Homo sapiens: one gene and its partners. The protein of the gene in region 2 interacts with the protein of the main gene of each other region in a pairwise test. Each region holds a gene or a part of one and is shown on either strand. Other genes may lie near its edges. The genes, in order: FNDC3B, GAS2L3 and TSR2.

Region 1 (3,653 bases), on a different chromosome or scaffold from region 2:
ACTGGGGAGAAACAAAGAAAAATTCAACAATCGATCCATTTTCAAACTGACAAACATCCTCATCTGTATGTAGATGGCTGATCACGACTGTCTATCGATCTTATGTGATTTATACTTGGTGGTTTTAAAAACATTTCTGTCCCCTGATCTTCAACTGGCACCCCACATACCTTCTGTTTCCAAGAACTGGTCCTTGACATTAAACCTGCACCACAAACAAACTCCCCTCCAGGTGAGCTTGTTACTAGGGTCTGGCATCTCACTGGAGGTACCTTGCAAAGTGCTCAACTACCATCAAGTCATCCTTCCAGTTGGGCCTGTGCTTGTCTACCTGCCCCTATCTAGCCACAATAATTCAAGCATTCTCTCCCTCTTTACAACACATAATGCCATAACCATAATATATATTTTAAGGCAAAGTGTATATATATATATAGAGAGAGAGAGAGAGAGAGAGAGAGAGACACTCAGTAAACTAAAGTACAAAGCTTCTCCTCAACCACCTAAGTGAATTCTCAACAGCCTTAAGAGTGAGAATTAATTTACTTGAAAATAATGTCTTACCATATAAATATCCCACTTAATGGATTAACCTCGTTAACAAGAAGAAAAGGCAATTGTGATTTCTAAAGTGGAAAGGCAGGTAGGTTGCAAAGACTCCCCTACACTGAAAATACGATTCTTTTCCATTCTCAGCTGTAATTGCTGAAAGCTCAAGTAATAGGCTAAGGTAACATACAAGGCCTAAAACCTTATTCCTTTATCATTCAGTACTGAACGTTCCTCTAAGAGACTGCACTTTTTCCCGCCACCTCAAAAACAGCCCTGAATCAAGCCTGGCCTGCCCACTTCAGCAACACTAGCCCAGCTACAGACCAGCTTCCCAAAAACACAGATATGGGACAACTTATGTATAGTACAACTTTGCAGAGGTCACAAATCACCTATTCCATTAGGAGTGGGGTAAAATAAAATACAACATCTAAAGCTTGGACCTTGTTTACTGATCACAAAGAGAAAAATAAATCATTTTTCAAACTGTCCAAGCACAATTTGGAGGTCTCTGAAAATGTGCAGAGAAATACCATAGCACCAGCTCAGTTTTAAACTCTGGAATATAATGAACTATGGAGTTTGTATAAGGCTTTGCCAAACACTTCTCAATACACTGACTCATTAATCCCTTGTGACACCATTTGAAAAGGTACGAGTTAGATCTTTCCTCCTTATATTAAAATGAGGAAACCCAGACTCAGAGAGATTCAAAAGCTTATCAAGGACCCAGCTAGAAAGTAAAGTCACTCCTTGACAGAGGAGATATTCTGATTTCAAACTGATGCTCAGATGTGGCCCTCAATTTTTGTCCATCATTTAAACATCTTTATGCCTTAAGATTATAGTACATTTCTCATTTGTATTAAGCACTTGGGGATGTCCTACAAATCAAACCATATGTCATGGGTTAAATCATGTTTCCTATATTTGTCACACTCACTAGGACACTATAATTCTATTTATAACATGGTTCTTATCCTGAAAATAGTACAGTGGTATCTTATCCTTGAAAATAGTACAGTGGTCCCAATGGTCAGGAATGGGTATGAACAGGATGTTTCAGTTATCTGAACAGTCTCAGTAACTGACGCCTTACCTGCAGTTGAATTAACGATTTTCAAAGAGCTGGAAGCAATGTAATTCACATAACACTAAAATAACATAGAACAATTCAAAGATAATTTACAGACATAGGTCCTCCAGGATATGTCTAGAGTTAAGACTATGAACTGCAATTATCCCAGGACAGTACCATAACTATGGAAGATACAATAGATTCAGATATATTTATACTGAACCTGGCAGTTGCCTCTTAAAAATCCTAATAAAAAGAGATTACATTATAATTTGCCTTTTCCTGAGGGTAGCACACCAAAAAAAAAAAAAAAAAAAGAGTTGGAATTTTCACTATTCCATACAAAATCAGAAAGTTGTTGAAATTCCTTTTAGCAAATGAAACTCTAAAATTCAATGAATTTAAATTAAATCCACTAATCAGAAAATGATTTGAACATCTGCCATCGGACAGATCTTTCTTACTGTTTTAATCTTACACATATTCTTCCCAATTCATGGATGAATCCAATGTGTTTGATATTTGATTTCTATACACTGAGAGTAAAAGAATAATTTTAATTCTTCAGGTTACTTCTGCAGCTACATAAGGAAAAGTGAGTAATGGTTTACTGATACTTACAAAGTCTGAAAAGAACTGTCCAATGAACGGATGGACGCGGGTATGAGAGGATCGTTTTTTTCAGCTTTCTATTAGTGACTTTTCATATTGCTTCCTATTTGTACTCTTATTACACTAAAATAACCAACAAGTTCTGACTACTTTTTCAGCAATTCCTATGCACAATTCCTATATTAAACCAAAAAAGATACAATTTAAAGATTTTTCCACCAGTTTTAACTATGACATGTAAACATTGTTTTTAAAACCAAAGAGTTAACAAATAATGTGCGTATTTTATCCACTCTACATATGAAAGCAAAGTTGAGCTATAGCTAACTCAGTCTTTAAATTCCATTTAAGGGCTGAATGTAACTTCTGATATCGTAGAAGAAAGAAAAATGAACTAAGAGATCTAAAGAGCAGTATGCAGCCTGGACAACCTAGTGAGACCTGTCTCTACAAAAAAACAATAATAATAATAAATAGCCTGGCATGGTGGCGTGCACACCTGTAGTACCAGCTACTGGAGAGGCTAAGGGGAGAGGATCACTTCAGCCTGGGAGGTGGAGGCTACAGTGAGTGAGCCAGTGATCATGCCGCTGCACTCCAGCCGGGGTAACAGAGCGAGAGTCTGTCTCAAAGTAAAATAAAGAGCAATATGACCAAGCTACATGTGAAAGATTTGGGAGTCAAAAAGTTCTACACTTTGCTCTCCAATATGGTAACCACTAGCCACAAGTGGAAATTTAAGTTTAAAATAATTACAAGTAAATAAAACTTAGTCCGGGTGTGGTGGCTCACGCCTGTAATTCCAGCACTCTGGGAGCCCGAGGCGGGTGGATCACCTGAAGTCAGGAGTTCGTGACCAGCCTGGCTAACATGGTGAAAACCCGTCTCTACTAAAAAATACAAAAAATTAGCCGGGCGTGGTGGCAAGCGCCTGTAATCCCAGCTACTCGGGAGGCTAAGGCAGGAGAATCGCTTGAATCCGGGAGGCGGAGGTTGCAGTTAGCCGAGACCGCGCCACTGCACTCCAGCCTGGGCTACAGAGCGAGAATCCATCTCAACCAGCAAGGCGGAGGTTGCAGTGAGCCGAGATTGCGCCACTGCACTCACTCCAGCCTGGGCGACAGAGCGAGACTCCATTTCAAAAAAAAAAAAAAAAACTTAAACTGTTGTTCCTCAGTCCACTAGCTACATTTCAAAGACTCAGTTACATGTGGCTTGTGGCTGCTATGCTGGACAGCACAGACAGAACCATTTCCAACACTGAAGAAAATTCCATTGGATGACACCATTGGTAGCTACGTGATCTTATGCAAGTTACTCTCTCTCTGTAAATCTCAATCCCCTTGTTTGTAAAGTGTGCATAACACAACCTAAATCGAAAATACTAGAATTTTAATGAGATAATGTATAA
Region 2 (4,150 bases):
CAGTACATCTCATTGTTTTTGTTGAGTAAAGGAAGGAATAAATGCTAGAGAGAGATGTCATTCCAGTTCAGTGCCCACCATTCACAGATGGAGACCTGAGGCCCAGAGAGGAGACATGATTTGAGGAAGGCTAAAAGACTGAATAGGGCCGGGTGAGGTGGCTAACGCCTGTAATCCCAGCACTTTGGGAGGCCGAGGTGGGAGGATCACTGGAGCCCAGGAGTTCAAGACCAGCCTGGGCAACATGGCAAAAACCCATTTCTACAAAAAACACAAAAATTAGCCCGGTGTGGTGGCACAGGCCTGTAATCCTGGCTACTCTGGAGGCTGAGGTGGGAGGATCTCTTGAGTCCGTGAGATCAAGGCTGCAGTGAGCCGAGATCGTGCCACCGCACTCCAGCCTGGGTGACAGGGCAAGACCCTGTCTCAAAAAAAAAAAAAAAAAAAAAAAAAAAAAAAAAAGAAGGGCCTGGGCTGCAACACAGGCCTCGGGGACAAAGCCAGTGATTTTTTTAAAAAATTATTTATTTATTTATTTTATTTTTTGCTATGAAACAAGCCACATTTACAGATATAACCGACTTGGGATTGTTACACTGATGTCTAGTCTCGGCTTTATTTCAACCCTGGGAGCTAGTAAGCATCCCTTACGTTGAAGTTCATTGTTTTTTTGTTTTGTTTTGTTTTGTTTTCAGGCTCCGGTGTTTGCTGAAGAGTCAACATCCTCCTTTTGTGACTTGGGACTACAGGATTCCTCCTCATCCCTCCGCACCTGAGAAGAGGGGCCTCTCTCTGAAAGATTTCTGCTGAGGACCCCCATTCCTGCTGGGTTCCAGGCTGCGTCTCTGGAAACCGTGGCGCCCTCAGGTCAGCCAGCTCCCGAGTGGATGTGGGGTTGGGAGCGGCTCTTAACAGACCAGGATAAAACTCAGGGAAGCGCCTTCAGCTGCACCGCAACATTCCAGGACGCTCAGAAGCAATTATTACAGGCGAGGTTCATTCACCTCTCAGGCCTGTGGGAACAACAGGACGGGCTGTGGCTTTCGAACTGGCTGTCGCTGAAAGGCCAGATCGGAGGACCTGCTCTGACTGAACCACTTCGCCTTTCAGTGAACAGAGGGACTTGGCCACCGAAGCTCCGAGACGCCCGGAGGCGCAGCGCTGGACGCGCTGACAGGCGAGCGCCCACGGGTCGCGTGCTTCCCGGCAGCCCGGGGGCGGGGCCTCAGACCACGCCCCCGCCTTATGATTGGTCCCTTCGAAACAGGCGGCGGCCAGCGGCTACTGACCCTGAGGCCCAGGCGGCGGCGGCAGCGGCGGCGGTTGGTCAGGGGCGTGTTGGCCCCGCACAGATTGAGCCGAGTTGTCGCCCCGCTGGGAGAAGTGACCCTCCTGCGCCTGGTGAGTACTTCCCTGTTTGTCTTCTCTTTTCCTGGCGAACTTTTACGCGCTGTCTCGGGGCCTCCGCGCCTCAGCCTGAGGGCTCCAGGAGCCCCCCGCTCTCTGAGGCCCCGAAGCTGAGGTTTGTTGGGTCTCCCGGCTGCGGGAGCCAGTACGCTCTGCGTTTGCCTGGCTGCGGCAGTCGCGTGCTCTGATTGGCTCCTGGGGCCGTCAAGGTGACGTTGCGCCTGCCTTCACCTGTCCACCCAAGTGCGGAGAGAGGGGCGACAGGTGTGCGGGGCGGTTGGGGCTGCTGGTGTGGGCGAGCTCAGCTGGGGAGGAGGGATCCAGCCGCTACTCGCCCTGCTTTAAATCCAGAGCGGTATCAGAGCCCGAAGGTACTGTGGGATCTTCAGGGGCACCCTCATCCCTAAGCGCCTGGCACTTAGAGGGTCTGTTTTTTTCTGTTCATCATCCTCGGAAAGAATTGATGAAGTCTCTGGCCCTGCAAAGAGAAAGAGACAGACAGTTATTCTTGCCCTCTAGCAAGGTTTATAGGCTCTTCCCTGTTTTTTCTCCCAGTCCATGCAGGGTCTAGAACGCCCACATGTGCGGAACTGGGGAATAGAGCTGGAGACCCTGCGCGATGCCTTCCGCCCACAACCCTCAGTTTGGAGGACTGCCCGGGGAGAGGCTGGCAAAAGAAAGGGAAGGCTTGTAGAGTGCCTTGGAAGTCAGAGGAAAGTTTTGGAGGGCGTGCTCCTCTATGCAGTCACCCGTGGTTCCTTTCCTAATCTTTTCACACCGAGGGATTGAATGTTGTAAATTTGAGTGCTTTGTGGCATGGCATGGTGGAATAGCTGATCCCCAGTGGTTGCAAAGAGATGATTTTAGGTCAGAGCCTGGGTTTTGCTTCGCTTGTGTGAAGAGCAAAAAACAAACAAACAAAAACAACAAGAACAACAGAACCGCTTTGTGAATTGCTATCTGATCACCTGTCTTGGCACTTAAATGATTAGAAATTGAAATTCTCACCACCTCAGATTCCCTTTGGGAACAAATTGGAACTGTTTCAAATGACAGAAGTGGAAACTCTAGTGATCTGGTGTAGATGCCGATACCTGTTGTCTGACTCATCTGTTTCAAAATCTCATTAGAAACCAACTGTCATTGAACAGTAGGTGTTTGCTATCTGACATTGAATTAGAAGTAGTAATTTTTTTTTTTTTAGCGTGACAGAGTTGCTAAGCAGGGGGGCTCTGAAATCAGACTTCATTGGATATCTGACTTTAGACACATTATTTAATCCTTCTAAGCCTAAATTTCCTAGTCTGTGAAAGAAGGTTAATAATAGTTCCTACTTTATTGAGAGGATTGTTGTAAAGATTAAATGAAATTCCACGTAACTAATTTAGCACAGTGCCTGATACATAGCTATTATTATTTCTCTGCTGTTTAACTTAGACAAAAAGTTTTGAGCTCTCCCCAAAGGATGGGGAGAGGTAGAAGGTGAAGGCAGTACCAGAGATAGGGATAATTATTGTTTATTGACTAAATTATACATGTAAAGCATTTAAAACAGTATCTGACACATCATAAACACGTGGATTACTATTTATCAAACACATCATTATATATCAGGTATTGTGTTCTTTACTTATATTATTGTTAAACCTCTTAGTAATCCTAAAATGTAGTTCATGTTATCTCTATTTTTTTTTTTTTTTTTTTTTTTGAGACAGAGTCTCGCTCTGTCGCCCATGCTGGAGTGCAGTGGCGCGATCTCGGCTCACTGCAACCTCTGCCTCCCGGGTTCAAGCGATTCTCCTGCCTCAGCCTCCCGAGTAGTTGGACTCCAGGTGTGTGCCACTACGCCCAGCTGATTTTTGTATTTTGGTAGACACGGGGTTTCACCATGTTGGCCAGGATGGTCTCGATCTCTTGACGTCGTGTTCCGCCCGACTCGGCCTCCCAAAGCTCTGGGATTACAGGCATGAGTCACCGCGCCTGGCCGTTATCTCTATTTTATAGGGGACAAAACTGAAGCTCAAAGAAGGGAAATCACTTACTAGGGTTCACCTGGAATTCAGTGCAGGCTTTTTTCTGTGTTACACACCTTTATATTCCTAACATTAAGTAACTTTCCTGCACTGGATTGTCAGTGTGACCCAGATTAATTTCTGCTGTGGGTATGGGTTTATTTTGAATACATTATGAATTTTAAAATAATGAGAAATAACTTGTGATGGTAAATCAAAATTTGTGATAAAAGAATAGTGTCAACAAAATGCATGCTATTAGTAAAAAAAACAGTGATATTTTGGAGTTTTGATGTTTGGAGAATGGCCACTTCAGAAATGATGTTCCTAATTTATATTTTGATAAATAGAAATGATGTTTGGAGAATTGGCTGTTTCAAAAGTAGTATCTCCTCATTTATATTTTCTCATTTAATTTTCATTTATTCACTATGTTTTTACTAAGCTACTCTTCCTTTTTTTTTCCTATCAATTTAAGTTTGGAGATAATAGGAAAGGTTCAGTTATTTGGATAGATTACTAAAGAGCTTGCTGTTGATGATGAGGAAAGTAAGAGATTAAACTTAATATGTATTCTTATGTTTTACTTTCTTACAGTAACGTGTGTATTTTACTTCTTATTATTGGTTTTCATACTTTGATATTAGATATACCAGTACATATCTAATGAGTCATGCAATGGACATAGAATGATATTAGATATACCTTTACAGATCTAATGAGTCATGCAA
Region 3 (2,718 bases), on a different chromosome or scaffold from region 2:
CTGCCCATGCTATTGTTCTCTTTATTTTACAAACGAGGAAACTGAGGCCCAGAGGGGTCATTTGCCCAAATTACACAGCAAATGAGTGGCAGCACTGGATTTTTTTAAAATTAAAAAATTGGCTGGGCACAGTGGCTCATGCCTGTAATCCCAGCACTTTGGGAGGCTGAGGCGGGTGAATCACCGGAGGTCGGGAGTTCAGGACCAGCCTGACCAATGTGGAGAAACCCCATCTCTACTAAAAACACAAAATTAGCCAGGCATGGTGGCGCACGCCTGCAATCCCAGCTACTTGGGAGGGCTGAGGCAGGCAAATCGCTTGAACCTGGGAAGCAGAGGTTGCGGTGAGCCAAGATCGCGCCATTGTACTCCAGCCTGGGCAACAACAGCAAAACTCCGTCTCAAAAAAAAAAAAAAAATTTAAAAATTGTCTTTTGTTATTACAAAGTAGGATAAGTAGACCAATATAAACAAAAAATAATAAAATACCGTATCCCTTCTACCCAAAAGTTACCATTGTGAGGGCTTATCCTATCTTTCTAGGCATATATGCACAAACACACATTTTGGAGATTTTTTTAAAAACAAATCTAGGTATTTATTTAACACTTAAAAGAGTACTTACTCTGTGCCAGGAACTATTCTAAGCACTTTGCATATATTAATTCATTTAATTCTCACATCAGCTCTCTTTGCTCTCCAAGTCAATACATTTTCATCTAGAGCTGGGATTCTAAGCCAGACTTCATTAACCACCCACATACCCCCTTAAAACCACAATGCTAGATTACCTCTCAATGAGTGTAGGAAATGGATGTGATGAAAGACAGAAAAAAGCATGAGGCCTAAATGTGTGAATGGCTTGAGGAATGAATGCTCTGACTGAAGAAAGAATGCCTGAGATCCGCACACTCCTTCCACTGGCCTGTAGAGGCAGCAGCCGTTGCCCAAATGAGGCAGACGAACCTAGCTTTGAATCTCAGCTCTAGCTGATTCACTGGGTGGCACTGGACAAATCACTCCTGCCACCTGAGCTTGAGCGTCTTCATCTGAGATAGGAATAGCAGTCCCTACACTGAGGAGGTATTAAAGCTAGGAGGAGCCAGGCTAGGCCTTCTGTCAACATTGATGCCCGGTGTCTCTGGCCACAGAAACAGGCCTCAGTGGCTGCAGAGAACAGCGTCATCTGCAGCTTCCTGCACTACATGGAGAAGGGTGGCAAAGGATGGCACAAGGCATGGTTCGTGGTCCCTGAAAATGAACCCTTGGTGCTGTATATCTACGGAGCCCCTCAGGTATGCATCCTACTCCTTCGGGTCCTTTCAGCCACCTGGCAAAGCCAGATCCAGTCCTTGACCTCTCCTTGGCCTTGGAAGATAAGGTGAGCCTTGGAAGATAAGGTGAGCCTATCTCTAAGAGGAAATCAGAACCCCAACCCTTGAGAGACAAAGACTGGCTAGAGACAAGGAGTGGTTGTGGTATGTAGGGAAAACCAGGATGAGTTGTGGGCCTGGCTTCCTGGAAGGAGTAGAGATGGGGAACTGCTAGGTCCAATTTGGAGTGGGTAAGAGTATGCAGATGGGACCGAGCGCAGTGGCTCACGCCTGTAATCCCAGCACTCTGAGAGGCCGAGGCAGGTGGCTCACCTGAGATCAGGAGTTCAAGACCAGCCTGGCCAACATGGTGAAACCCCGTCTCTACTAAAAATACAAAAATTAGCCTGGCGTGGTGACGTGTGCCTGTAGTCCCAGCTACTCAGGAAGCTGAGGCAGGAGAATTGCTTGAACCTGGGAGGTAGAGGTTGCAGTGAGCCAAGTTCATGCCACTGCACTCCAGCCTGGGCAACAGGGCAAGACTCTGTCTCAAAAAAAAAAAAAAAAAAAAGTATGCAGATAGGGGCAATAGCATAGACAAAGGCCTGAAAACATTATTTGGTATGCTAAAGAGACTAGCCCAGCAGTTTTGTGAGAAGAGGCGGGGGTGGGGGGAGACAGGTATTTAAACCAGCCTGCATTTTAGCCCCAGTTCTGACATGTTCCTGTTGATAACACTGGAGCCACGGAAGGTTCCTGAGTAGGGGAGTTCCTGAGTAGGGGACTGAAGACAGAGCATATGCAAAACCAGTTAGAAGCTGGGGCGGGGGAAAGGTCTAGCCCCAAGGTGGCCCCAGCTCTGTCCCTCCTCCCGCCAGGATGTGAAAGCCCAGCGCAGCCTGCCCCTCATTGGCTTCGAGGTGGGACCGCCCGAGGCAGGGGAGCGGCCTGACAGAAGGCATGTCTTCAAGATCACCCAGAGCCACCTCAGCTGGTACTTCAGCCCTGAGACAGAGGAACTACAGCGACGCTGGATGGCTGTGCTTGGCCGGGCGGGCCGAGGGGACACGTTCTGCCCGGGGCCCACACTGTCTGAGGACAGGGAGATGGAGGAGGCACCGGTGGCTGCTTTAGGAGCCACTGCTGAACCCCCCGAATCCCCCCAGACCCGAGACAAGACCTAGAGGGTTTGGGACAAACTGGGAGCCCCCACCCCACACTCTAGTTGCCCATGTCTGATTGGGGGCTCTAGCCCCTTCCCTCCCAGCTCAGTCAATACTTGAACTCCCATCACGGGCACTTTCAATCCCGAATGCTGGGTCTTGGGTTTTTTAATTCATCTTTTCACAAAACGTGGGCTTTTAAAAAATATATTCCTACAGTGATGTCAATTTTTATTAATCCC

Evidence for each region.
Region 1: the proteins of GAS2L3 (region 2) and FNDC3B interact in binary tests that used the Homo sapiens proteins (3 or more experiments, as listed by UniProt).
Region 3: the proteins of GAS2L3 (region 2) and TSR2 interact in binary tests that used the Homo sapiens proteins (3 or more experiments, as listed by UniProt).

Annotation. Positions count from the first base shown.
Region 1 is NC_000003.12:172,042,578-172,046,230, reverse strand, and holds part of FNDC3B (fibronectin type III domain-containing protein 3B), read right to left. Parts: intron 1-3,653. UniProt on the Homo sapiens protein: May be a positive regulator of adipogenesis.
Region 2 is NC_000012.12:100,572,385-100,576,534, forward strand, and holds the start of GAS2L3 (GAS2-like protein 3), read left to right. Parts: upstream 1-1,299; 5' UTR 1,300-1,401; intron 1,402-1,962; exon of another isoform or gene 1,963-3,239; intron 3,240-4,150. UniProt on the Homo sapiens protein: Cytoskeletal linker protein. May promote and stabilize the formation of the actin and microtubule network.
Region 3 is NC_000023.11:54,445,888-54,448,605, reverse strand, and holds the end of TSR2 (pre-rRNA-processing protein TSR2 homolog), read right to left. Parts: 3' UTR 2,498-2,718; coding exon of another isoform or gene 2,192-2,497; 3' UTR 1,296-2,191; coding exon of another isoform or gene 1,152-1,295; 3' UTR 574-1,151; downstream 1-573. Other genes in the region: FGD1 (FYVE, RhoGEF and PH domain-containing protein 1), read left to right, coding at 1,152-1,295, 2,192-2,497. UniProt on the Homo sapiens protein: May be involved in 20S pre-rRNA processing.